4 linked regions of the Homo sapiens genome follow. The protein of the gene in region 1 purifies or fractionates together with the protein of each later gene. This does not show direct contact. Each region holds a gene or a part of one and is shown in the gene's direction. Other genes may lie near its edges. The genes, in order: ODAD4, CFAP410, YME1L1 and NEK1.

Evidence for each region.
Region 2: the proteins of ODAD4 (region 1) and CFAP410 purify together in Homo sapiens (affinity purification with mass spectrometry; 2 studies listed by BioGRID and IntAct, with this or other methods). This does not show direct contact.
Region 3: the proteins of ODAD4 (region 1) and YME1L1 purify together in Homo sapiens (affinity purification with mass spectrometry; 2 studies listed by BioGRID and IntAct, with this or other methods). This does not show direct contact.
Region 4: the proteins of ODAD4 (region 1) and NEK1 purify together in Homo sapiens (affinity purification with mass spectrometry; 2 studies listed by BioGRID and IntAct, with this or other methods). This does not show direct contact.

Annotation. Positions count from the first base shown.
Region 1 is NC_000017.11:41,961,602-41,967,018, forward strand, and holds the end of ODAD4 (outer dynein arm-docking complex subunit 4), read left to right. Parts: intron 1-3,391; coding exon 3,392-3,882; 3' UTR 3,883-4,902; downstream 4,903-5,417. Other genes in the region: CNP (2',3'-cyclic-nucleotide 3'-phosphodiesterase), read left to right, coding at 5,284-5,286. UniProt on the Homo sapiens protein: Component of the outer dynein arm-docking complex (ODA-DC) that mediates outer dynein arms (ODA) binding onto the doublet microtubule. Plays an essential role for the assembly of ODA-DC and for the docking of ODA in ciliary axoneme.
Region 2 is NC_000021.9:44,336,387-44,343,251, reverse strand, and holds the start of CFAP410 (nuclear encoded mitochondrial protein C21orf2), read left to right. Parts: upstream 1-3,861; 5' UTR 3,862-4,057; coding exon 4,058-4,134; intron 4,135-4,549; exon of another isoform or gene 4,550-4,819; coding exon of another isoform or gene 4,820-5,018; intron 5,019-5,584; coding exon 5,585-5,603; intron 5,604-6,331; exon of another isoform or gene 6,332-6,428; intron 6,429-6,865. UniProt on the Homo sapiens protein: Plays a role in cilia formation and/or maintenance. Plays a role in the regulation of cell morphology and cytoskeletal organization. Involved in DNA damage repair.
Region 3 is NC_000010.11:27,130,359-27,137,388, reverse strand, and holds part of YME1L1 (ATP-dependent zinc metalloprotease YME1L1), read left to right. Parts: intron 1-1,003; coding exon 1,004-1,113; intron 1,114-2,407; coding exon 2,408-2,558; intron 2,559-3,266; coding exon 3,267-3,350; intron 3,351-5,447; coding exon 5,448-5,530; intron 5,531-7,030. UniProt on the Homo sapiens protein: ATP-dependent metalloprotease that catalyzes the degradation of folded and unfolded proteins with a suitable degron sequence in the mitochondrial intermembrane region.
Region 4 is NC_000004.12:169,476,577-169,483,606, reverse strand, and holds part of NEK1 (serine/threonine-protein kinase Nek1), read left to right. Parts: intron 1-4,072; coding exon 4,073-4,204; intron 4,205-5,226; coding exon of another isoform or gene 5,227-5,235; exon of another isoform or gene 5,236-6,083; intron 6,084-6,109; coding exon 6,110-6,175; intron 6,176-6,254; coding exon 6,255-6,483; intron 6,484-7,030. UniProt on the Homo sapiens protein: Phosphorylates serines and threonines, but also appears to possess tyrosine kinase activity. Involved in DNA damage checkpoint control and for proper DNA damage repair.

The DNA of each region.
Region 1 (5,417 bases):
GCCACCAGCAGCCCTAGCCTATCTCTGGGGCAGTAGAGGGTGAGGATTCAGCCCACCATGGGCTGGACTGTCTGGCCCCAGAGCGCACTCATTTCTCTCTTCAATTGATTCATCAAGTATATGGTGAGCACTTGTCATGTACCTGGAAGGTGTTAGATTCTGGGGAGAGAGGCCCATCCCTGCCCTGGAGGAGCCCATGGCCCTTTGGGCAAGGCTGACCAGTGGAGTTGTCAGCTGCTGGGATCCTGCACACAGGTGCTACACCGAGGTGGAGGTGTGCTGCCATGAGGGTGCATGCAACGGGGCGTGGGCTCCTCTGGGGAGGCAGAGGAGGCTTCGACGAGGAAAAATCTTCTACCTCCAACTCCAAAAGATGCCCAGGAGTTTTCCAGGAGAGAAGTGGGAGAAGAAAGGCATTTTTCCAGCAGGGAACAGCAGGGCCAGAGGCACAGAGACAGAATAACAGTAGCTACACTTTGGGGGCTCTTACTGTGTGCTAGGCACTGGGTTAAGCACCAGACAGGAGTGATCTTGTTGGGTCTTTACCCCACTAGGAGGTGTAGGTGCTGTGGGGGGAAAGGGAGGCTGAGTGAGGTGAGTGCTCTGCCAGAGTCATGTAGCTAGGGAGGGGTGACTCGGGGCCCCACTCTCCCCACCTGCGGCGCTGCTCTCGGGCCAGCAGTGTGATGGGCAGGTGCAGAGGGGCATAAGGTGCAGAGGCTGCCTGACAGCTGTGCCTTACCACATTCTTTCTCACAAGGTCTCCAGGGAGTAAACAGGCCTTTGGCCCCCTGCCTTTGGGCTCTCCTTTCCTGCAGGGAGGGAGTGAGGGAAGGAGAAGCAGAAGATGGCTGAGCAGCCCTACCCCACTGGAGAGGGGCCTAGAGGAACAGGGGTGTTAAGCGCAGTAGCCGACCCCCATTCATGCTTCCCGCAGGCCAGGCATTCTTTCAAAGACTGTGTGCACGGACTCATCCTATCTGTATCTGTTCAGGAACACTATGAAGGAAGTGTTATTAGCTTGACTTTATGGAGGACATGGAGGCAGAGGGGTTAGAGGCTACAGTGGTTTTCAGTCTTGGGCAGTCTGCTCTAGAACCCACGCGTCGGCCCGTGCCACACTGTTTCTAGTGACACAGACAGCCTTTTCCTGCCCCAGTCTGTGGAGCTCTCACTCCAGCCAGACTGCAGTGAACAGAGCTGGGGCTGGAGGTCCGGGAGGACAGAGCCCAATGCAGATTCTTGGCTGCAGCCCTCCAGGCTGCAAGGCTGAAATCCTTTCTGGTCCAGGCAGGGCAGCGGGAGGTTTCTGGGCACCTGAGCAGCCAGATGACAGCCCTTTATTATCCAGCACCTGCTCTGTGGTGGCTGGACCCCCTCAGAGGGGCTCTGTCTCCGCCCCCACATGCCCTTTGAGCTGCTCTGAGAAGCCACAGGAGCAACAGCTGTGGAGAGAGACTCTGCGGGGAAGCAGCCAACACCCCAGTCTCCCTACCCTGGCCTGCGTCCTTGTGCCTGGAGAACTGCCGGGCACGTCCCTCTCAGAACAGCAGGTGGCAGCATTGCATCTGTTTTCACCACCAAAGGGCTGTGACCCCCTGAGACCTGAGACCCTCTGCAGATACCTCAGTAACTAGTGGTTTCCAGGAGGAGAATGTAAGGGAGACGCAGAAGGGGATGTAACTTTTCTCCATAACTGATAAAAAAAAAAATTTAGGAGCAAGGATCCCTTTGCTTGTAAAATAACTCTTCAGCTGAACTTTTTGTTAGCAGCGTATATCTTTATAGGAAACCTATCTTTTTCCTTATGTTTTTTCTATATTTTCATAGGAAACCTCCCAACAAATAATGAATGTGCTTCCCAGGGACAAAGAGAAAGTGTCAGAATGAAGATGCTGGAGAAAATCCTTCTGTCATTTTCCAGCACCTATGCTATTTCTTGCAGGGAAAAGAGGTGTTCTGGGGTCAGACTGTCCTGGGTTCAAATTCTGTCTCACTTGCACACTTGCAGTGTGACCATTGTGTGATTTCTTTTCTTTCTTTTTTTTTTTTTTTGAAACGGAGTCTTGTTCTGTCATCCAGGCTGGAATGCAGTGGTGCAATCTCAGCTCACTGCAACCTCCATCTCAGCCTCCCAAAGTGCTGGGATTACAGGCATGAGCCACTGTGCCTTTTTTTTTTTGAAATGGAGTCTCCCCTCTGTTACCCAGTCTGGAGTGCAGTGGCGCGATCTCAGCTCACTGCAACCTCCATCTCAGCCTCCCAAAGTGCTGGGATTACAGGCATGAGCCACTGTGCCTTTTTTTTTTTTTGAAATGGAGTCTCCCCTCTGTTACCCAGTCTGGAGTGCAGTGGCGCGATCTCGGCTCACTACAACCTCCGCCTCCTAGGTTCAAGTGATTCTCCTGCCTCAGCCTCCTGAGTAGCTGGGACTACAGTCTTGTGCCACCACTCCCGGTTAATTTTTTTTTTTTTTGAGATGGAGTTTTGCTCTTGTTGCCCAGGCTGGAGTACAATGGCACAATCTTGGCTCACTGCAACCTCCGCCTCCTGGGTTCAAGCGATTCTCCTGCCTCAGCCTCCCAAGTAGCTGGGATTACAGGCGCCTGCCACCATGCCCAGCTTATTTTTGTATTTTTAGTAGAGACGGGGTTTCACCTTGTTGGCCAGGCTGGTCTCAAACTCCTGACCTCAGGTGATCCACCTGCCTCGGCCTCCCAAAGTGCTGGGATTACAGGCGTGAGCCATGCCGCCCGGCCGTGTGATTTCTTTTCTATCGATCTCAGGTCCCTTGACTGCAAACTCAAATCAACGGCAGTGCGCATTTTCATGATGTCTGGATGGGATAAGCTATACAGCCCTCACGTGATGCACAGGACGGAGCTGGGCTCAGTCAATGATGGTTCCCTTTCTCTGCTTTTGGAAAGGTGTGCTGTCAACACCAATTTAAAGAGCTGGCAAAAACAGTCATTCTCAGGGCCTTTCTCTCATCGGCCTCTCAAAAGCACAGGCCTCCACAGAGATGAACAGTTTCTTTCTTTTTTTTCTTCTTTCTTTTTTGGAGACGGGTCTTGCTCTGTCACCCAGGCTGCAGTGCAGTGGCTGGATTTTGGCTCATCACAGCCCCAACCTCCTGGGCTCAAGCGATTCTTCTGCCTCAGCCTCCGGGTAGCTGGGACTACAGGCGCCAACCACCACGCCTGGCTAATTTTTGTATTTTTAGTACAGACAGGGTCTCACTGTGTCGCCCAGGCTGGTCTGGAACTCCTGGCCTCAAGGGATCTGCCTGCCTCAGCCTCCCAAAGTGCTGAGATTACAGGCGTGAGCCACCGCACCCGGCCTGACATGAACAAACTTTTATCTTTCTTCCCGCTTTTCTCTTATTTTTCAGAAGCTTCACTGTATGAAGATAGAATAATAACAAGAGAGAAGGACATGAGGAGAGTGAGAGATGAGCCCGAGAAGGTGGTGAAGCAGTGGGACCATAGTGAGGATGAGAAAGAGACAGATGAGGACGATGAGGCTTTTGGGGAAGCTCTGCAGAGCCCAGCAAGCGGAAAGCAGAGTGTGGAAGCAGGAAAAGCCAGAAGCGATTTGGGAGCAGTTGCCAAGGGCCTGTCAGGAGAATTAGGCACAAGATCAGGAGAAACAGGCAGGAAGCTACTAGAAGCTGGCAGAAGAGAGTCAAGAGAAATTTATAGGAGGCCTTCGGGAGAATTAGAGCAAAGACTCTCAGGAGAATTCAGCAGACAGGAACCAGAAGAACTAAAGAAACTTTCAGAAGTGGGCAGAAGAGAGCCAGAAGAACTGGGAAAAACACAATTTGGAGAAATAGGAGAAACGAAAAAAACAGGAAATGAGATGGAAAAGGAATATGAATGAAGCCATCGGTAGAGATGAGGATCAGGAAGCTGGTGTTCAGAGGGATCATGGGATTTTATTAAACTGGATTTTCAAGCGATTTGTCTGTTATAGGAAAAATGAGGGTTTTACTTCTGCTGCTTTCCATCACTATTTTGCCATTAAATAGGTGTCTTTCACTCTTGCAAACCCTGAGTCTGTCACTTTGCCTCTTCACCCCTGCCCATTCTTGGAAGAGCATCGTGGAAGAAATGAGAAAGGTGCCAAGAAGAAAGGGTTTCAGGAGGGTGAAGATACGGGCGCTACAGGGAACAAGAAGTCACAGGGAGGAGAGGGGAAGGCCTGGGAGGAGAGGTGCTTCCCACACACCGGTGACTGACTGAGTCCCTCCAGTGCGCAGGACAGCGGGGAGGCTTTATGGATGGAACAGTGGTGGGGCGGCCCCAGCTGTCACAGGTAGGAGAATGCCGCAAGCCAGAACCAAGCGAATGCTGGGAGTGAGGCCAAAGATAGGGGAGTGGCCTGGGAGTCGGGAGGGCAGACAGACTCCGCCTCTGACACCTCTGGGTGGCATAATCAGGTAAATCAGGCTCTCCAAGCTGGCTTCTCCTCTGAACAATGGGATACCTGCCTCAGGGGTTGCTGCGAGGACTGAGTGCTTAGCACAGCACTTGGACAGGAAACTCAAAAATCCAACGGAGCTCTCAGTGGTTTCACAGAGGAGGTGGCAGCTGAGGATCTGGCCTCAGAGGATGTTAGGATTTCACTCCGTTACTCATCTGTCCCTTTGGCCATTGCCATCCTGGTCTGTCTCCACAGCTCCTAGAAGGAAAGGTCGGGGCTGAGACTGACTTTCGGCTGGCACAGGGCCTGGACGAATGAGGCCAGTGAGGCATTTCAGATGCAGAGTTTACCGGAATGCCAGCAAATTGCATGATAATATTTTAATCCAATGTGGTAAAAAAAAAAGTTTTTAATTAATGCAAAAGTCCATGATGAATAAAATATCAAAAATTAAAGACAGGATCCGACTTTGCACGACCCTGCCTCACTCACTTCCTGCTAATCCACGGGACCGGGGAGGGTGACTGAGTTACCCCTCAACACGCAGAAAAAGCTAGTGGCCGCTCAGCTCGCAGGCGCAGTGGGTGGGTGCGCGTGGGGAGCAGGCGCGCGCAGGGGGCGGGACCGGGCCGAGGTTCCCGCGCGCGGCGAGAGTTTCGGGTTTTGGTTCGCAGCGCCTGCGCGCAGAGGAGACGGCCCGCCCCCAGCCCGCCCGGGTGCCCGCTCCGCCCCCCGGGCTATGTAAAGCGGCCGGGCTCGGGTCGTGCCACCGCTGGACTCCCGTGTCCCTCCGCGCAGGCGGGCGGCCCCGGAGCGCTGGTGCCGGCAGAGGCGGCGACGGTGGCGCCCCTCCTCATCATGGTGAGAGGCCGGGCGGGGCCGGGCACGGGGTAGCACCAGGGCGGGAAACGAGTGTCGGGGCCCCTCGGGAGGAAGCGTCTTGCAAACGAGGACCCGGGGCTCCGGGTTCGACTTCCAGTTTTCTTGGTACT
Region 2 (6,865 bases), on another chromosome or scaffold:
ATTTCTTAAATGTATTAGATTGCTGTCTCATGCCTTCCTAAAAAGTAAAAAACCAAGCTGTGCCCCGACCACCTTGGACACATGTTCTCAGGATTTCCTGAGGGCTGCGTCACGGGCCATGGTCATTCATATCTGGCTCAGAATAAATCTCTTAAAATATTTTACAGAGTTTGACTCTTTTTGTCAACACCACGATATAGAAGGTTAAATAAAACCCATCTGATGAGAATTTATGGTTTGTAGGGCATGACTGTCCATGCCCTTTAGGAATTTGGGCAAGATAAAAAAAGAAAAATCAGAGTTTAGTCCTCAATTACTTCAAGGCCGAGAGTGAGTTCTGGCCTTGAAGTAATCTTGTTGGAGACAGAATGAGGTGTCCGGTCCCTTTCAGGAGCTGACCCCTGAAGCTTCCAAGCAAAGAGATGACCAGATAAGTGAGCATGGTGTGTGCTTAACAGGCATCCAGGTAAACTAAATGTGCATAAGGCCTGAGAGCACAGGATGGGAACGGAGTGGAGGTTCACATTCCCAGGCTGTATTTCAAGATGGAAGGTAACACAAGCAGCTTGTCTCAGTTACATCTTCAGACTAGGGTGGAGGAGGAGGAAAGGGGAAAGGGGAAAAAGTTTTAAAACATGGTTTGAGGCTTAGCTGTGTGAAAGGAATATAAAGCTCAAGACCTTAAAATCACTAAGTCAAGGGAAAAGTCAGCTGGAAAATGCATCAGGCAAACCTGCCTCCAATTTTATTCCTAAATAAGATCGCTACAAAGATAAAAAGCTATGAAGCTCCCTCACAATTTGCCCACAAGGAAATTCCTTGTGGGCCTCAAGATCTTTACCCTCAAACAGTTCTGTTGAATTTCACCCTGGAATGTAAACTGATAGCTGATCTTCACAGGTGTGGGACAGGAGGTCATCCCCCTGCTCACCGGAGACACATGCCTATCTGTTTGCTTTCTCTGCCTTATTGTTTATGTAAAAATGCAGATTTACTAAGCTAGACCAAATTGTGTATTCAGTGAAAGGACTCAAAAGAATGCAATCTTTTGTCTCTTATCCACCGATGACCTGGAAGCTGGAAGCCTCCCTCCACCCCCACAACCCCACCCGGCCTTCAAGGTGTCCTGCCTTTCCAGACTGAACTAATGTACATCTTTTTTTTTTTTTTAAGACGGAGTCTCGCTCTTGTTGCGCAGACTGGAGTGCAATGGCACAGTCTCGGCTCACTGCAACCTCTGCCTCCCGGGTTCAAGCGATTCTCCTGCCTCAGCCTCCAAAGTAGTTGGGATTACAGGCGCCCACTGTCAGGCCTCTGAGCCCAAGCTAAGCCACCATGTCCCCTGTGACCTGCACGTACACATCCAGATGGCTGGTTCTCGCCTTAACTGATGACATTCCACCATAAAAGAAGTGAAAATGGCCTGTTCCTGCCTTAACTGATAACATTGTCTTGTGAAATTCCTTCTCCTGGCTCATCCTGGCTCAAAAGCTCCCCTACTGAGCACCTTGTGACTCCCACTCTGCCCGCCAGAGAACAACCCCCCTTTGACTATAATTTTCCTTTATCTACCCAAATCCTATAAAACGGCCCCACCCTTATCTCCCTTCACTGACTCTCTTTTCAGACTCAGCCCACCTGCACCCAGGTGAAATAAACAGCTTGATTGCTCACACAAAGCCTGTTTGGTGGTCTCTTCACATGGACACGAGTGAAACCCACCACCGCGCCCAGCTAATTTTTTGTATTTTTAGTAGAGACAGGGTTTCACTATGTTGGCCAGGCTGGTCTCGAACTCCTGACCTCAGGCCATCCACCTGCCTCAGCCTCCCAAAGTACTGGGATTATAGGCGTGAGCCACCGCGCCCGGCTTAATGTACATCTTATACATATATTTTTTCTTCTTTTTCCATCTTACACATATTGATTGATGTCTCATGTCTCCCTAAAAATGTATGAAAGCAAGCTGTGCCCCAGCCACCCAGGGCACATGTCATCAGGACCTCCTGAGGCTGTGTCATGGGCTTGTCCTTAACCTTGACAAAATAAACTTTCTAAACAGATTGAGTCCTGTCTCAGATATTTTGGATTCACAGCTGCTAAGCTGCTCGGTTACAATTGAAGGCTCATGGGTTAGGGGTTGTTCAAAGGTAGTTTGGTGAACAGGGGGCTAGGGCATGGGGAGTGCTGATTGGTTAGGTGCGAGATGAAATCTAGCTGTCCTTTTGGTCCTTTTGTGCTGCATGGCTTCTGGGTGGGGCCACAGGAGCTGTTGGCAAGACATTTAGCTGGATCCATCCGTGTGAGACATGCAAGAAACCTGCAAAGGTACAATAGTGATGTTACCTGCAGGAGTAATTGGGGAAGTAGCTTATCTTGTGACCTCCAGAATAATGGCTGACGAATGTTTACATCTGCATCTTAGTGGAATTCATGCTCCTCTATCCTTCTAGGCTGGTAGTGTAACCGCCCAATGGGTTCGCCTTGCCCACTGCCTAGACAGAACCGATTTATCAAGGCAACGGAATTGCAATGGAGAAAGAGTAATACACACAGAGCTGGCTGTGCAGGAGAGCAGAGTTTTATTATCACTCAAATCAGTCTCCCCAAGCATTCGGGGATCCGTGTTTTTAAGGATAATTTGGCGGGTATGGGCTCAGAAAGTGGTGAGTGCTGATTGGTCAGGTCGAAGATTAAATCATAGGGGGTCAAAATGAGTTCTGGCTGACTTCTGTCCCTGGGTGGGATCACACACATGGTTGAGCCAGATTATCCGTTTGGGTGGTGTCATCTGCTGCATCTGAATGCAGGGTCTACAAAATATTTCAAGCACTGACCTTAAGTTTTGCAACAGTGATGTTATTCCCAGAAGCAATTTGGGGAGGTTCAGACTCTTGCCGCCAGAGGTTGCATGGCCCCTAAACTGTAATTTTTAATCTCGTAGCTTAATTTGTTAGTCCTACAAAGGCAGACTGGTCCCCAGGCAAGAAGGGTTTTTTTGGGAAAGGGCTATTATCAATTTTGTTTCAGTTTAATCTATAAACTAAATTCCTTCCCAAGGCTAGTCTGGTCTACACCCAGGAATGAACAAAAGCAGCTTAGAGGATAGCAGGAAGATGGGGTGGGTGAGGAGATCTTCCCCTGTCATAATTTCTTCAGTTATGATTTTTGCAAAGGCGGTTTCAGTGGTCTCATTAGCTTTACAAAGGCTGTTTAGTTTTGAGGAAGGGCTGCTATCACTTAAACTATAAATGTCTCCCAAAGTTACCTTTGCTTATCCAGGAATAATTAAGGGCAGTTTTAAGGCCAAAGGCAAGATGGGGGTTGGCCAGATCTCCTTCAAGGCCAACCTTCTCTCACCGATACAATTTTTTGCAAAGGCGGTTTCAGAACGTCAGAACGCCTGTCTTAATGTAACTGTGGCCCATGTAACGATGTTTAGAGGGTCTTATCTGATTTCTAAAAGGTTGAAATGCTTGTAAGGGCTCTGCTGGACCTGCCCGTGCGTCTTTCCTATAAATGCGTCTTTTCTGTAAATGCTGGGAGGGAGGGAGACAAGGAATCAACACAGCCCCAGGGCTGCCCTGGGTTTATTCCAAGAGTTTGAATCGCGTAACTTGGAGCTGTGTAGCGCCCATGCCATCCACGCTAGGCCTGCGCTCAGAGTCAGGCCTAGGCACTCGGCCATGATGCGCGTCGGACCGAGCCCACCCCGCTCGGTTCCTGGGAGCAGCAGTTCAGCCCTCACTGGGCCGACTCGGGGACCGCCACCTGCACCCACCCTCTGCTCGCTGCGCGCTTCCGGGGTCGCGTTAGAATCGCGTCAGAGAAGGGCGCCCCAGGCCGCGCATGAGCAGGAGCAGAGCCAACGTGTCAGCGGCGCCCAAGCGGCCCCAGCGGGCTCGCGTCGCCCCGCTCTCCTCACCGAGCCGCCAATCGGCTCAGGATCCGCCCCTGACGACGCGGGCCCCGCCCCTGGAGACACGCGCCGCGCAGTCGTCACCCGCCCGGGATCAGGAGGCCGGGGGCGCCCGCCGGTCGGGCCTGGGCGGCCGCCATGAAGCTGACGCGGAAGATGGTTCTGACCCGGGCCAAGGCCTCGGAGCTGCACAGCGTGCGCAAGCTCAACTGCTGGTGAGGCGGGGCCTGGCCGCGGCCGCCCCGGGGTGGGGGGAGGAGCCGGGGCGGGGCGAGGGCGGAGCCGGAGGGAGGAGCCGGGGCGGGGAGAGGGCGGAGCCGGAGGGAGGAGCCGGGGCGGGACGAGGGCGGAGCCGGAGGGAGGAGCCGGGGCGGGGAGAGGGCGGAGCCGGGGCGGGGAGAGGGCGGAGCCGGGGCGGGGAGAGGGCGGAGCCGGAGGGAGGAGCCGGGGCGGGACGAGGGCGGAGCCGGAGGGAGGAGCCGGGGCGGGACGAGGGCGGAGCCGGAGGGAGGAGCCGGGGCGGGACGAGGGCGGAGCCGGAGGGAGGAGCCGGGGCGGGGCGGGGCGGGGGCGGAGTGGAAGGGGGGAGGGGCAGGGGCGAGGGCGGCGAAGGAGCCGCGGGTGAGGGAGGGGAGGAGGCCGGGGGTCGGGGTCGCCTGGGCCCCCCCCCATTTCCCGGCCCGCCTTTGCCCCGGGTGCCCTGTGGGCTGGGTCTGTTGTCTGGGGTTGCCAGCAGTCACTGGGACCAAGTCGAATAGGAGAGAGAACTGAGCTTTCCAGGACTGAGTCAGGAAACACGTTGGTAATCAGTACTGGGGGCGGCCGTTCCCAGGGTACTCCTAGCAGGTGACAGGAAGGGACGTGGGTGCGGTGGGACCCAGGCAGGCTGAAAGGCAGGTAATGCTGAGTCTCACTGAGCCAAGGAAGACCAGGAGCTTCCAGAAGAGGGAGCCTGGAGTTGAGGCCTGCAAGATCTCCAGGGTTCCCTGGGGACTCAGCAGAGTGACCGCGCCGTGTCAACTGGCCTCACCGTGCAGGCGGGTGTGGGGGTCAGCGAGAGCAGACGCTTCCTCCCAGGGGTGTCCGCAGACTGCCCAGAGTGAGCTCTTCCCTGTTAATTAAAAAGCTTTTCTCTCTGCCCTGGCATATCTGGTGTTTTGGCTACAATTCCCGTGTCATTTGCTTTCAATAATGCATTTCTTTGTTTTGCATGGGGTGGTCAGTACTCCCACTAAGCTGGGAGAAACAACAACCCTGTTTCAGGCTTTTAAAGTTTGCTTCATAAGTTGCCTGTTCACCCTTTGAACTTGACCTCTTATAAAGACGCCCTTGTTTATGTCTGTCAGTGAGAGAAATGAACCTTCTGCTACTCAGGGACCATGAGGAAGAGTTCATCTTTTTGTGTCTTACAAATGGAGCAACCCTGCTGCTCCTTATCTAAAAAGTACCACCCCAACGTCAAACATACAGTTTAGTTGAAAATCAGCTAAAACAATTGTTTACACCTTTGCCAGTTATCTGGGCAACCTTCCTTTTTTGCCATGCCATTAAAATCCTAGAATCTTAAGGTTTGTAGGGAGTCATCGGTGATTTTTGGAATTTTTGTCTTCAGTGTTTTTTATTCAACTTTAACAAAATTAAAGTATGTATCTTTTCTCTCCCCAGGGGCAGCCGCCTCACAGATGTAAGTATTGCCTCACAGATGTAAGTATTGCACTGATCATCTCCAAATAGCCTCAACCCAAATGTTGTAGCTTCTTTCCCAAGAGAATTTTTAAGTTGACAAAACTGCACCTATCAATTCAGTCCCACACTTGGTACTTTGTTCACTTAGCGGTTTTCATTCTGCAGAACCACTAATGGAAAAACAATTCTCTAGTGCCAGGCTTATTTTGCAGTTCCCGTCAACATCCCTATAAATGAAACACCCTTTGTCACTTGGTCGCAGAGGAGGGGAGCAATAGTTTGGAACTTGCTCTCACCTGGAAAGGAATCCCAGGAGGGCTTGTTTTACTTTGTTACGGGGAAGTTGAAGGTCTACACCCCCTCTTCTTGGTCACATCTAGCCTTGTACCCCCTTGCCGCTGCCCCAAAGGCAGGCAGAGAATAAGCCCTGCTGGGAGAACTTGAGTGTGTGCGTCTGTGAAAGATTTTTTTCTTCTCTCCCTCATTGTCTTTCTCAGTCCAAAATGTCCCCAACTTACACAGGGATCGCATACCAATTGTTTCTTTCTTTTTTTTTTTTTTTTACACGGAGTCTCTCTCTGTTGCCCAGGCTGGAGTACAGTGGCACGATCTTGGCTCACTGCAACCTCTGCCTCCCGGGTTCAAGCAATTTTCCTGCCTCAGCCTTTGAGTAGCTGGGACTACAGGCACCCACCACCATGCCTGGCTAATTTTTGTACTTTTTAGTAGAGATGGAGTTTCACTGTGTCGGCCAGGCTGGTCTCAAACCCCCTGAGTTCAGGTGATCCACCTGCCTCAGCCTCGCAAAGTATTGGAATTACAGGTATGAGCCACCATGTCCAGCGCAATTATTTATCTCTTTATTTTCCTTTGTTTTTTTAATTTGAACTGTACCTTTTCTTAAAGACAAAAAAAAGCCTGGATACGTGGCATCTGGGTGTAATCTGTTTTGTGCTGTAACTGAAATACTGCATGTTTAGCAGTGAATATACAAACGTACCATGTCCATAGACACGAGTCACTTATACATGGGACGCATCTGACCAGGCTGTGAGCTGCTGGTGCCATGCCTGGCGTATGGTGGGCTCTCACATATGTGGGAGCTTTGCAGGTTGTGAGGCTTTGTGGACCACCCCGGGCACCTCACCCCTGAATTGACAGTACCAATGTGATCTGAGATCCAGTCTCAAGCCTGTCTTCCTTTTGGCCTAGACCTGTTATCAAGAAGGGATTTCCATCCTTTCCTTGCTTTCTATCCCT
Region 3 (7,030 bases), on another chromosome or scaffold:
GTTCAGGGAAATGGTTGAATGAATTGCACTGTGATAAATTGGAAAAGTGTAAACAGCCATTAAACTGAATGCACTGTTCTGTTCTGAAAAATATGCACGAAAAATGAAAATTGCAAAAAATTAGGTACTATTTCTAGAGTAGTTTTTATAGAAAGAGCACCTGTGTGCATGCATACAAGGGTAGTCAGAATTGTTAACAGGTTATACTTCTGGGAAGTGGGATTGGGGCTTGAGAAATTAGAAGACACTAATTTGATACACTTACCCTTTTTTCAAAAACATTATGTAATTACCAAAAACATGTAAAAATCAGTTGTGTAGATTCAATCTATTTTAATTACTTGGTTGGGTTTTTTTTTTTTTTTGAAATCACAGTTTATCAGAGTTGATACTCAGTTTTTTAAATTATATTGTATAACCCTCTGACTTCTCTATTTACCTTTATCCCCTATCAACATAAAAAATAGGCCAGGCGCGGTGGCTCACGCCTATAATCCCAGCACTGTGGGAGGCCAAGGCAGGTGGATCACCTGAGGTTAGGAGGCTGAGGCAGGATAGTTGCTTGAACCCAGGAGGCGGAGGTTGCAGTGAGCAGCAATGCCTTGCACTCCAGCCTGGGCAACAAGAGTGAAACTCCATCTCAAATAAATAAATAAATAAATAAATAAATAAATAAATAAATAAATAAAGTTCCTTTTGAAAAAAGGAGGATAGAAAAAACTATAAGCTGGGCATGATAGATTTAAGTTCTCAGACCTAATCCCAGCTCTTTGGGAGGCTGAGGCAAGAGGACTGCTTGAGCCCAGGAGTTCAAGGCCAGCCTGGGCAATAAAAGGAGACCCCGTCTCTACAAAAAAGAAGGAAACAAAGGAAAACGTATTGAAGTGTCAGGCAAATTAGATAGACTAGGATATACAGGTAGGGTGTCAGACTTTAGAATCTTAGGCATTTTTCTTTTCCTGTAACAATTTATAGTGACAGTGAATGGTATTGTTTTATTTAGTTTTCATACAGTCTCGGGGTTTTAAAACTTTGAAATCAAGGACACGACGTCTCCAGTCTACCTCCGAGAGATTAGCTGAAACACAGAATATAGCGCCATCATTCGTGAAGGTAATTAGACCTTTTTATGATCCAAAAAGCAAATATTTTCAAGTTGTTAGAGTGAGGAGCTTCAATATCTGATTTCTTTTGTTGGCTGATAGATATTCTTCCTTCTTTCCACTAATAATAAGGGATTAGTAACCTGTGTAATCATTATACCTCTAACTCTTCTGGGCACCAGACTTGCCTCTCCACTTACTAGATTTTTTTCCCACAAACCTACACCTGTCGAGGTGTTCTCTGTATTAATGAGCAGCATCCACCCAAGCTAAAAACCTGGCTATCAACCTACGTTTGTCCATGTTGCCTTACCTCCCACATCCATTAACCACTAAAGTCCTGTTGATCCAACCTCCTAAATATTTCTTACATCTGTTCCACTGCCATAGATAGGCTATAACTATTTGTTGCCTAAATTACTGTAATGAATACTTGTTTAGTCTCCTTGCCTCTAGTCTTGCTGCGTTCAGTCCAGCCTCCAGACTGCCACCCATCAATCTTTCTAAAATAATGATCTAGTTATATTACTCTGCTTTATTGCTTACCTCCACCTGATACACTGGGAATTTCATCATTTGATCTCTACCTGCCATGTTTCTCTTCTCACCATTCAATATGCCCCTCTGTTTCCCTGCTCCTCTCTTGGCATTGAAGTCTTATATAAGATTGCTTACAGTTCTTGAGCACTGAAGGCTATTGATTCATGCCTCCGTCAGATTGTTCATAGTGTTTATTCCCTGTGTTTTAGATGTCCTATTCTCTGTAAGGCCTTTTCCATATTCCTGAGGTAGCATTGATTTACCACCATACATAATACTTCTAACATAATATCAAAATGATTTAAGAAACTTAGTTATTTATATATCTTTTTCCAGTAGACTGAAAACTTTAAGATCAGTGGTTTATTTATCTTTACATCTTCAGAACTTATATAAGGCCAAGTATATGAACGGTGCTTAGTAGACATTTAGTAAATTAATGAGATTTTTTCCTCTAGCAAAGATAGAGGGATATGAACATTAAGCCAATCAAACCCTAAAATAATATGTGACCTGTTTTCAGTGTAGTGTTCGTGCAGAGAATAATGCCACTTTCTTTATATTATTAATTGATTGATGCAGGAATGGGATCTAGTGTTAGTTTCCTAGTTATTGATTAATTCATTGCTGAGTCTTAATCTGTTTCTTCACATTGACAGTAAAAATTATACAGAATTTTAGTGAATTTTTTTGAGTGGTCACAATATTGTTGGGAAGTATCACTGTGTTGTTAACCAGTACTGATGTGTTGTTTGTGTATTCAGGGGTTTCTTTTGCGGGACAGAGGATCAGATGTTGAGAGTTTGGACAAACTCATGAAAACCAAAAATATACCTGAAGCTCACCAAGATGCATTTAAAACTGGTTTTGCGGAAGGTTTTCTGAAAGCTCAAGCACTCACACAAAAAACCAATGGTAAGTTGAATTGACACCATCCGTGTTTGAGAAGAGTAACTGAAAGGAAGTCATAGTCCTACATTTAAGTTTTAAGTAACTTTTCTAAGACCATCTATTGATTAAATTCCACTATATTTGTAACTTAATCTATGTAGAAATGGCGATACTGCTGATGGTTTCCCTTTCTCAAGAGAGAAAACAAATTGGAGAACAGGAAGTGTGAATGGCTTCATAAAGGTTTTTGTTTCTTTATTTTTTGTTTGTGTTTGTTTTTGAGACACGGTCTTGCTTCATTGCCTAAGCCAGAGTGCAGTGGTGCAATCATGGCTCATTGTAGCCTTAACTTTCTGGGCTCAAGTGATCCTCTCACCTCAGCCTCCTGAGTAGCTAGGATCACAGGCATGTGCCACCACGCCCAGCTAATTTTTGTGGAGATGGAATCTTGCCCTGTTGTCCAGGCTGGTCTTGAACTCCAGGGATCAAGTGATCCTCCTGCCTTGACCTCTTAAAATGCTAGGATTACAGGCATGAGCCACCATGCTTGGCCTTAAGTTTTTGATAATAGGGTACTTACAGGAAATCATAGCAGTTGTGAGAAAGAATGCCAGATTCCAAAATTGGATGTGATGAAATATGATTATTAACAATAACCTAATATTTGCATTTCATTGAGCTGTCATATTTCATAAATGTGATTTCATGTAAAGCTTTTTCTTTCTCTCCTAGATTCCCTAAGGCGAACCCGTCTGATTCTCTTCGTTCTGCTGCTATTCGGCATTTATGGACTTCTAAAAAACCCATTTTTATCTGGTAAAAGCTTTTTTTATTTGTCTAACTTATTTCTTATTCCTTTAAATACATGATTCCTTTTAATGCCTAATCTAACCCTTAAAGAAAGAACATATTAATGTTTACAGTACTAGAATTAGGCTTTCATTCCTAGTAGTGGTTAGTTTCCCAGATTTTTAGAAAATGATACCTGTCCAATTATAAAATTTAAAAATTATCCTGGTCAACAGGGTGAAAGGAAAATTAATTAATTAATTTTAAAATTATGTAGAAGAATTTTATAATGGCAATACAAGCTGAAATAGTCTTCTATTTCAAAGATAAACAAATTCAGTTTATTCATAAAATCACATTAAATGTTTCCCTTTTTTTTAGTTTGCTTATCTGAAATTAAGCAATAGTGTCAGACTTACGTGGTTCCAATTACCTTTTCCACTACTGTGCAGTTTTCACCCTGTGTTGCCTATTCTCTTAAATATTAAGGATATGTACAGATTCTTAAAAAATACTTTGTGGGCCAAAACTATTGGTGTTCATTCTAGAATTACTATTTTAAATTTGTTTTCCCAGCTTCTATGTTCCTGATTTATTAAGCATTTCTCCTTAACCCCATATTTTGCCAGCTCATTTTTCAGCCTATCTTAACAGTATTTTGGGCTTCTTCTGAGGAAATTAGAAATTGCTCAATTTACTCATTTATAACTGCTCTAGTTTGGAAGTTTCTACCTGAGTGGGAAAGACTTAAGAAATCCTTGTAATAGTTCTCCAAAATTGATCTCAAATATTTTACTCTCCTATCAGACTTTTTCTGTCTTGCTTGTCAGACTTAATGTTGTCATAATTGATAGGTCATTTGAGGGCAAGTAATAACAGTTGTCAGAGGAAGAAGACTACATGAAAAGTATAATAATGTGTTAAGCCTCAATTTTTTATTAATGTGTGTCAATGTTTTCTGCTAACTTTAAGGCAATGTGTTTCAAAGTGTAGACCTGTGACCAATTAGAATAATTGAAGTGTTTGTTAAAAATGAAAATTCTCCTGGGCCCTGTGCTGTGGCCTGAGAATTAACATACTTCTCAAGTGAGTTTTATTCACACCAAAGTTTGAGAAACTTTGATTTAAGATTTCTATCATTAGATACTACAATAAGAAGTAGAAAATAATTTTTGATTTTATTAACTGAAAAGTACAAATAGGTCATTTTATTTTATTTTTTTATTTTATTTCATTTATTTTTTTTGAGATGGAGTCTCGCTCTGTTGCCCAGGCTGGAGTGCAGTGGGGCAATCTTGGCTCGCTGCAACCTCCTCCTCCTGGGGTTCAAGCAATTTCACTGCCTCAGCCTCCCGAGTAGCTGGGACTACAGGCTTGCGCCACCATGCCCAGCTAATTTTTTGTGTTTTTAGTAGAGACGGCGTTTCACCGTTAGCCAAGATGGTCTCGATCTCCTCACCTTGCGATCTGCCCGCCTCAGCCTCCCAAAGTGCTGGGATTACAGGTGTGAGCCACCACGCCCAGTCTTTATTATTTTTTATTTTTTCAAGTTTATTAAGAAAGTAAAGGAATAAAAGAATGGCTACTCCATAGGCAGAGCAGCCGAAATATGTCTTTTTAACGTGAATCACTTACTCTTTGAAGATGGTTTAGAAATCCAGAAGACCAGCCGGGCGTAGTGGCTCACGCCTGTAATCCCAGCACTTTGGGAGGCTGAGGCGGGTGGATCACCTGAGGTCAGGAGTTCAAGACCAGCCTGACCAACATGGAAAACCCTGTCTCTGCTAAAAATACAAAATTAGCCGGGTTTGGTGGCGCATGCCTGTAATCCCAGCTACTTGGGAGGCTGAGGCAGGAGAATCGCTTGAACCTGGGAGGTTGAGGTTGCAGTGAGCCAAGATCGTGCCGCTGCACTCCAGCCTGGTAACAGAGCAAGACTCTGTCAAAAAGAAAAAAAAAGAAATCCAGAAGACCTAGTTTCTATTCCTCACTCTGATTTGATATGTGAAGTTAGGTCACTTAGACATTTAATTTTTCTAGGCTTTGCTTTCTTGCATCTAAAAAACAAGGTGATTGGAATGTTATTAATCTATCAAATATAAACATTTCTTTTCTTCCCTTTAGTCCGCTTCCGGACAACAACAGGGCTTGATTCTGCAGTAGATCCTGTCCAGATGAAAAATGTCACCTTTGAACATGTTAAAGGGGTAAGTTAAGAAGATTGCCTTGCCTTCTTCATACATCCTCTAATTGATACTCTATATGAGGTCGATATTTGATTCTACAGTGTATTCTAGAATAGGTAAAATTGTGTCCAAAAGTATTAGAAACATTAGTATTTTGGGATAAATAATAATAGCCAAGGATCAAATCTTGCTTTATGGCAGGGGATAGTATAATTTATGAAGGAGCAGCCTGGTGTAGTGGAGTGAATGTGGACTTCAGAGTCAAGCTGACTAATGTTTGAAATTCATTTTTATACTTATTAGCTATGAGACCTTGAAGAAATTACTTTAGATCCTGACAGATAATGTATGTGCTTGACACATAGTAGATATTTAATAAATGGTCCTTCTTTACCTGTACCTCTTACTGATCTTTGTAACTCCACTATCTAAAACATGTTAGACAATGTATATTTCTTGAATGAATAGAATGGATAAATGCTAGTTTATAGTTGATTAATTTGTTAAATATTTAATAGTATTAAGTGCTAGGCCCTATTTTAGCTGCTGGGATAGAATAAATAATCTCTGCATTCTTAGAGTTTAAACTCTAAAAGCAGTAATTGGACACTGATATGTGATGTAAGAAAAAGTAGAGTATGTTAAAAGAATAAAAGTGTATGGAGGAAAAAGTAGAGCAGGGTAAAGAGGATTGGGAGTTTTGAGAGAAGGCTTACAGTTTTAAATGGAGTGTTCAAGGTGTGATTGATGGAGAAGGTGACATTTGAGATAAAATCTGAAGGAGAAGATGGAATAAACTGCATTTATCTGAGAAAGGAACGTTTCTGACCAAAGGAACAGTTTGAGCAAAGGCTCTCAAGTAATAGGGTGTCTGACTTGTTCATTTTTGAAAGTAGAACTAATAGGATTTCTTATTGGAACGTAGGGTGTAAGAGAAAAGAGGAGTCAAAAAGAGCCACAAGATTTTTGGTCTCAGCAATTAGAAGGATAGAATTGACATTTACTGAGATTTTTGTTTTTGTTTTTGAGACGGAGTTTCGCTATTGTTGCCCAAGCTGGCGTGCAATGGCGTGATCTCGGCTCAGTGCAACCTCCACCTCCCAGATTCAAGCGATTCTCCTGCCTCAGCCTCCAGAGTAGCTGGGATTACAGGCACGAGCCACCACGCCCAGCTAATTTTTTGTGTTTTTAGTAGAAACAGGGTTTTACCATGTTAGCCAGGCTGGTCTTGAACTCCTGACCTCAGGTGATCCACGCAGATCAAAGTGCTGGGATTACAGGCGTGAGCCACGGTGCCCGGCCTTTAGTGAGGTTTTAAAAGGCTGTGAGTGGAGCAGATCTGGGGGACAAAGGTTAGAAATTTAGTTTTAGGTATGTTAAGTGTGAGAGATACGAATGAAAGTGTTGAGTAACTTGGATATACCACTTTGGAGGTATGGGAGAGGTCTGAGCTAGAATTAAAAATAGGAGATTATATTTATATGTATGTTAAGTCCACATGTTTGGATGAGATCACCCAGG
Region 4 (7,030 bases), on another chromosome or scaffold:
GTGTGAGCCACTGCGCCCGGCCTATTTGTAGTAACATCTTAAATATCAGTATACTTTTTCAATAATACTGAACTATGGGACTAAAGCAATGTTTCCATCCTTTTTTGAACAAAATAAATACAGGCATACTTTGTTTTATTGTGCTTCATAAATACTGCATTTTTTACAAATTGAAGGTTTGTGGCAACCCTGCATCAAGCAAGTCTATCAGTGTCATTTTCCCAACAGCTTTTGCTCATTTTGTGTCTTTGTGTCACATTTTTGTAATTCTTGCCATATTTCAAACTTTTTCATTATTGTCATTATATCTTTGATATTACTGTTGTAATTGTTCTGAGGCACCACAGACTTCACCCATATAAGATGGGAAATTTAATTGATGAATGTGTGTGTTCTAATTGCTCCACTGACTGGTAGTTCCCCTGTCTCACTCCTCAGATCTTATTCCCTAAGACAAAATAATATTGAAATTAGGCCACTTAATGACTTACAGTGGCCTCTTAAGTATTCAAGTAAAAGAGTTGCATGTCTGTCACCTGAAATCAAGATTAAGCTTGGTGATGAAGGCATATTGAAAGCTGAGATAGGCACAGAATTAAGCCTCTTGCGCCAGTTATCCAAGTTGTGAATGCAAAGGAAAAGTTCCTGAAGGAAATTAAAAGTGCTACCCCAGACCAGGTGCAGTGGCTCACGCCTGTAATCCCAGCATGTTGGGAGGCCGAGGCAGGTGGATCATGAGATCAGGAGTTTGAGACCAGCCTGGCTAACATAGTGAACCCCATCTCTACTAAAAATACAAAAAATTAGCTGAGCGTGGTGGTGTGTGCCTGTAATCCCAGCTACTCAGGAGGCTGAGGCAGGAGAATCATGTAAATCCAGGAGGGAGGCGGAGGTTTCACTGAGCCATTGCACCCCATTGCACTCCAGCCTGGGCGACAGTACAAGACTCCATCTCAGAAAAAAAAAAAGTTCTACTCCAGTGAACACACATGATAAGAAAGCGAAACAGCCAGGTGCCTGTAGTCTCAGCAACTCGGGAGACTGAGGCACGAGAATTGCTTGAGGCCAGAAGTTTGAGACTAGCATGGATGACATAGTGAGAACCTGTCTCTAAAAAAAAAAAAAGAAAGAAAGAAAGAAAGAAAAATTAGCTGGATGTGGTGGCACACACCTATAGTCCCAACCACATTGAGAAGCTAAGGCAGAATGATCATTTGAGCCTAGGATTTCAAGGTTGCAGTGAGCTATTATTGTGCCTGGATCTGCACTCCAGCCTGGGTGACAGAGCAAGACCCCATCTCTTAGAAAAAAAAGAAAGAAAGAAAGCAAAACAGCCTTCTTGCTGATATGGAGAAAGCTTTAGTGGTCTAGATAGAAGATCAAACCAGCCGCAACATTCTCTTTGGCCAAAGCCTAATCCAGAGCAAGGCCCTAACTCTCCTCAATTCCGTGAAGACTAGGAGAGATAAGGAAGCTACAGAAGAAAAATTGTTGGCTAGCAGAGATTGGTTCATAAGGTTTAAGGAAAGAAGCCACCTCCATAACATGAAAGTGCAAGGTAAAGCAGTAAGTGCTGATGGAGAAACTGCAGTACATTATCCAGGAGATATAGCTAAGATCATTGATAAAGGTGGTAATACTAAACAACAGATTTTCAGTGTAGATAAAACAGCCTTCTATTGGAAGAAGATGCCATCTAGGACTCTCATAACTAAAGAGAAGTCAATACCTGGCTTCAAAGCTAAAGAGAAGTCAATAGCTGGCTTCAAAGCTTCAAAAGACTGGCTGACTCTCTTGTTGGGAGCTAATGCAGCTGGTGACTTTAAGTTGAAGCCAGTGCTCATTTGCCATTCTGAAACTCCTAGGACCCTTAAGAATTATGCTAAATCTATTCTATTTGTGTTCTATAAATGGAACAATAAAGCCTGGATGACTGCACATCTGTTAACAGCACGGTTTGCTGTAAATATTTTAAGCCCACTGTTGAGACCTACTGGTTAGAAAAAAAAAATTATTTCCAAATATTACTACTCATTGACAAGGCACCTAGTTACCCAAGAGCTCTGATGGAGATGTATTATACAAAGAGATTCATGTTGTTTTCATGCCTGCTAACACGACATCCATTCTGCAGCCAATGTATCAAGAAGTCATTTTGACTTTCAGGTCTTCTTATTTAAGAAATACATTTTTTTAAGGCTGTAGCCATAGATAATGGTTCCTCTAATGGATCTGGGCAAAGTAAATTGAAAGCCTTCTAAAAAGTATTCATCATTCATCATTCTAGATGCCATTCAGAACTTTTTTGATTCATGGAGTTAATGTCATGTTAATGTTAATGTCAACATTAACAGGAGTTTGGAAGAAGTTGACTCCATTCTTCAAGATTTCAGTGGAGGAAGTCAGTGTAGATGTGGTAGAAATAGCAAGAGAAGTAGAATGGCAAGGGGAGCCTGAAGATATGACTGAATTGCTACAATCTCATGATAAACTTGAATGGATGAGGAATTGCTTCTTATGGAGGAGCAAATAAAGTGGTTTCTTGAGGTGGAGTCTACGAAGGTGAAGCTGTTTTGAACATTGTTGAAATGATAAGGGATTTAGAATATTTTGTAAACTTAGTCGATAAAGCAACAGCAGGGTTTGAGATGACTGACTCCAGTTTTGAAAGAAGTTCTACTGTGGGTAAAATGCAACAGCATCACATGCTGCAGATAAATATTTTCATGGGCTGGGCACAGTGGCTTACGCTTGTAATCCCAGCACTTTGGGAGACTGAGTCAGGACAGTCATTGAAGCCAGAAGTTCAAGACCAGCCTAGGCAATATAGTGGACCTCATCTTTATTTAAATAATAAAGAATTTTAAAAATATTTTTACAAAATCAAAAGAATATTTTCATGAAAGAGTCAATGGATGCAGCAAACTTCATTTTTGTCTTATTTTAAGAAATTGTCATAGCCACCCCAACATCCAGGAGTCACCACCCTGATCAGTCAGTAGCCATCAGTATCAAGGCAAGACCCTCCACCAGCAAAATAATTACAATTCATTGAAGGCTCAGAAGAATCATTAGCTTTTTTTTTTTTTTTTTTTTAGGAATGAGGTGTTTATTAAGGTGTGTACATTGTTTTTTAGACATAATGCTGTTGCACACTTAATAGGCTACAGAATCGTGTAAACATAAATTTTGTATGCTCTGAGAAACCCCAGAATTTGTGTGACTCACTTTATTGCAATATTACCGTTATTGCAGTGGTCTGGAACCAAGTGCGTAATATCTCAGAGGTATGCCTGTATTGTTGTAAAGTGAAGGTCTAGAAGCCTAAATATTAAGATTGTATTATTACTGTATTTTTAGAAGATACTCAATAAATATTGTGTTTGAAATGTATACTCCCCAGAAAGTCTTGTTTCCTAGATTGAGGAAGACTAGGAATAGGGAGTAGGGAGTAAACTTCCTGCTGTGTTACTATTGTCATACCCATAAATGTCATTTCCTTGTATTAATTCAGGTTTCATAATCTTACTTTGTTTAGAGTTTAAATGGCAACATAAAAACAAGCACATATGTTAATACAACATGATGTTTTCAGTGAAGTAAATCTTATTACCTGGATCTGTTTCTCCTTCCATTCTCATTTATGTTGGCATTTTTATGAGGGCTCTTATGTTGAGTAATTGATATTTGAACTTTGAGAAGATTGTACCCAAACCTGCAGGAATTACAAAAGCATTTCTTTTAGAAGTGTAAGATTAACAAAATCTTACACTTGAATCTTTAAAAGACAGTTTTTCAGGATCATTTCATGAAACATTGATAATGCAATGAAAGCGGGTTATTTAGGACTATGTGACATGACTATGTGTACATCTGAGACCAGAGATTTTTTTCTCTAGTCACTGCTGTATCCCCAGCATGTAGCATCATAATGCCTTGCTCAACAGATAATTCAGGAATGAAAAAAACTACTTGTGGATAGAGTGGATAAATAGTGATCTGGTAGGTACCATTTTATTTCTTCATACAAATATAAAATCCCTAATGTATTTAATAAAATCCTTTTTTATAGTTGGTGGCTAAAGGAGTTAAGAGTTCTGATGTTTCTCCACCTTTGGGACAGCATGAAACAGGTGGCTCTCCATCAAAGCAACAGATGAGATCTGTTATTTCTGTAACTTCAGCTTTGAAAGAAGTTGGCGTGGTAAGTTTCCTAAGATTCAGAACTCCTCAAAGTCAAAAGATTATTTAAAAGGAAATTAAATTTAATGAAATCACATTAATCCCTAATGTCCCTTTCAGGTTTTTCTAAGGAAAAAAATTACTTTTTAAGGGATTTTAGTTTACTCAGAATACTGGAGCCTCATTGTTTATAAGTTTTATATCTAGGACCACGTGGTAGATGAAAATATATCACAATAACTCTTATATTACTTTAAAAGAATATTGAAAAAATAAAATATACAGAGAAATGTACTGAAAATAATACTATAAACATTTTTCTACCCAACCCTCATGATTAACAAATGTTCACTTTAAAAAGAATAATGTCTCTTTGGTGCTAAAGTAGCTCTAGGTATTAGGTCCAACACATATTTACATTTATTCAAATTTTGTGACATGGCAAATGTTAGAGGACTCAGTAGAACTAGTTAATTCATCAGTTATTCCTTTTACCTTCTACTTCTGAATCTCTGTCATGCCCTACAGATAGTAAAACAAAGAAACATAGACAAATAAAAAGCTTAAACTTAGAAGTATATTTCAGGTATCTGTCTGAAGTGTGAAGACTGTTCAGGGGTTAAGAGAAGTGGGCTCATAGTGTGGAGCTGCGGCCTAGAATTCAACAGACAGGAGGAGAAAAGTCTACTGAATCAGATAACATAATAACTTCATTTTCCCCTTTCCTGGTAATGGATGTCTGTGCTTTTTATTTGTTTAGTTTCAGTAAATATTTGCAGACAAAATTGGTACACTAGCTGTTTTTTTTTATAGCCTTTGGGTTGATTTTGAAAATAAAACTCAGTAGGAAAATATAAGTTTCTTGATCATTCTCAAGAACTTCATGTAAGAAACTATTGTTCTTCAAGTAGGCTTAGTCACTTTTTCTTTCTGATAACGACTTTGCGTGTGCCACGTTGTTACTCCAACTTTAGATACCACTGTGTGGTCCCTCCTTGGTACCCAGTCTCACATCTCAATAGCTGTTCATCTCTCTGGTTGTAGGACTGCTAATTCCTGACTACTTTACTGGGTAAAATGTTCTTTGTCTCATTGCTTCATATATTACTTTGAAACTGACCACCAAATTTTTAATTTTTTTTAAGTATTACAAAATTCGAGGTAATCCATATAACTGAACGGTTTTCTTTCTGTGTTGTGTTGGTAAATGTCACTTACTTAAAACTTAGAAAATTGTTCTTTGAATCTTCTACATGCCTTTGCTTTCATAGCTTTCGTAACTGCTAATTTCTTCTTTTCGTATGTTTTTTAATTTTAGATAGTCTGGATTGCTTTGACAATGCTAATTAGGAGATAACATTTATGTCATTTGTAGTACAAATGACTCAGAACTAATTTTTGTTACACTCTTTGTTTAGGGAGGAAAGCCACTTCTCAATTACATTTAGTACTATGGCTTAACAAGGATATATATACATGAAACATAAAGACAGTTTTAGAATAACACAGCCTATTTTGAATTACTTCATCTATCAAAACTTTTTCTAGTTATAATTAAGAGAGTATATGAATTTTCCTCTAATTTCTACTTTTTCCTCTAATTTCTACTTTTTCCTCTAATTTTCTGACTTAAATTACCAAAAAATCAGGTACCAAAGAGGAAGAGGATATAGTTAATTATGTGAGCAGTAATCTAAAAATATGACAAATAATTGAGAATTGGCCCCTGTCTATGTTGTCTAATTAATAATATTTAAAGGTTAGTCATTGCTGATAATGAAGGAAGCTTTGTTAACATTTTATAGGAATAAAAAATTTACAAGGAACAAATTAATGAAAACCAAAAAGTAACGAGGATGTAATATTTTTAAAGGTAGATTTAAAAAAATAAAATTATCTCTTCCTCTGTATCTATCTGCATTTAAAGGACAGTAGTTTAACTGATACCCGGGAAACTTCAGAAGAGATGCAAAAGACCAACAATGCTATTTCAGTAAGTAAAATTTTCAAAGTTTATCAATCATTTTACTTAATGATATACATATTAAAATATATAATGTCGTGACTTTCAGAGTAAGCGAGAAATACTTCGTAGATTAAATGAAAATCTTAAAGCTCAAGAAGATGAAAAAGGAAAGCAGAATCTCTCTGATACTTTTGAGATAAATGTTCATGAAGATGCCAAAGAGCATGAAAAAGAAAAATCAGTTTCATCTGATCGCAAGAAGTGGGAGGCAGGAGGTCAACTTGTGATTCCTCTGGATGAGTTAACACTAGATACATCCTTCTCTACAACTGAAAGTATGTATAGTAGTATATTAATATCCTATTTAGGTCTAGTACATATGTAAACTTATAGACTAACCACTCTGAAAAAAATGAACACTTAGAAGAATTGAGAGAAGCTGAAAGAATTCTATATATTTTCCTTTTGGGCGAATAGAAGTGCCTCCCTCTCACAGTGAAATGTGAAGAGCAGAGAAAACTAATCAAACTAATCAGCCTTAATAGCAAGGATTTTTATTACAAAAGTGTATAGTGTGAGAGAGGGAACTAATGATACATATTTAAATTGCATTACTTTAACTCTGTATACCATGTTAAATTAATCTGTTACTATGAATAATTCTTGATGAGAACCAGGGTAGTGTCTCAGAAACATCTCTTAGGCATTTAGCGAGAGTATTGAGAAAATCTGACTTAATGATTTATATATTCGGTGATAATTACTGAGAATCTATATTTCTTACATTGTTCTAGGAATTGGAGATATAGGAACAAAACAGAAACATATGTGCTCTTGTGGAGCTTACATTCTAGAAGGGCAAGTCTGACCATCAACAAATCT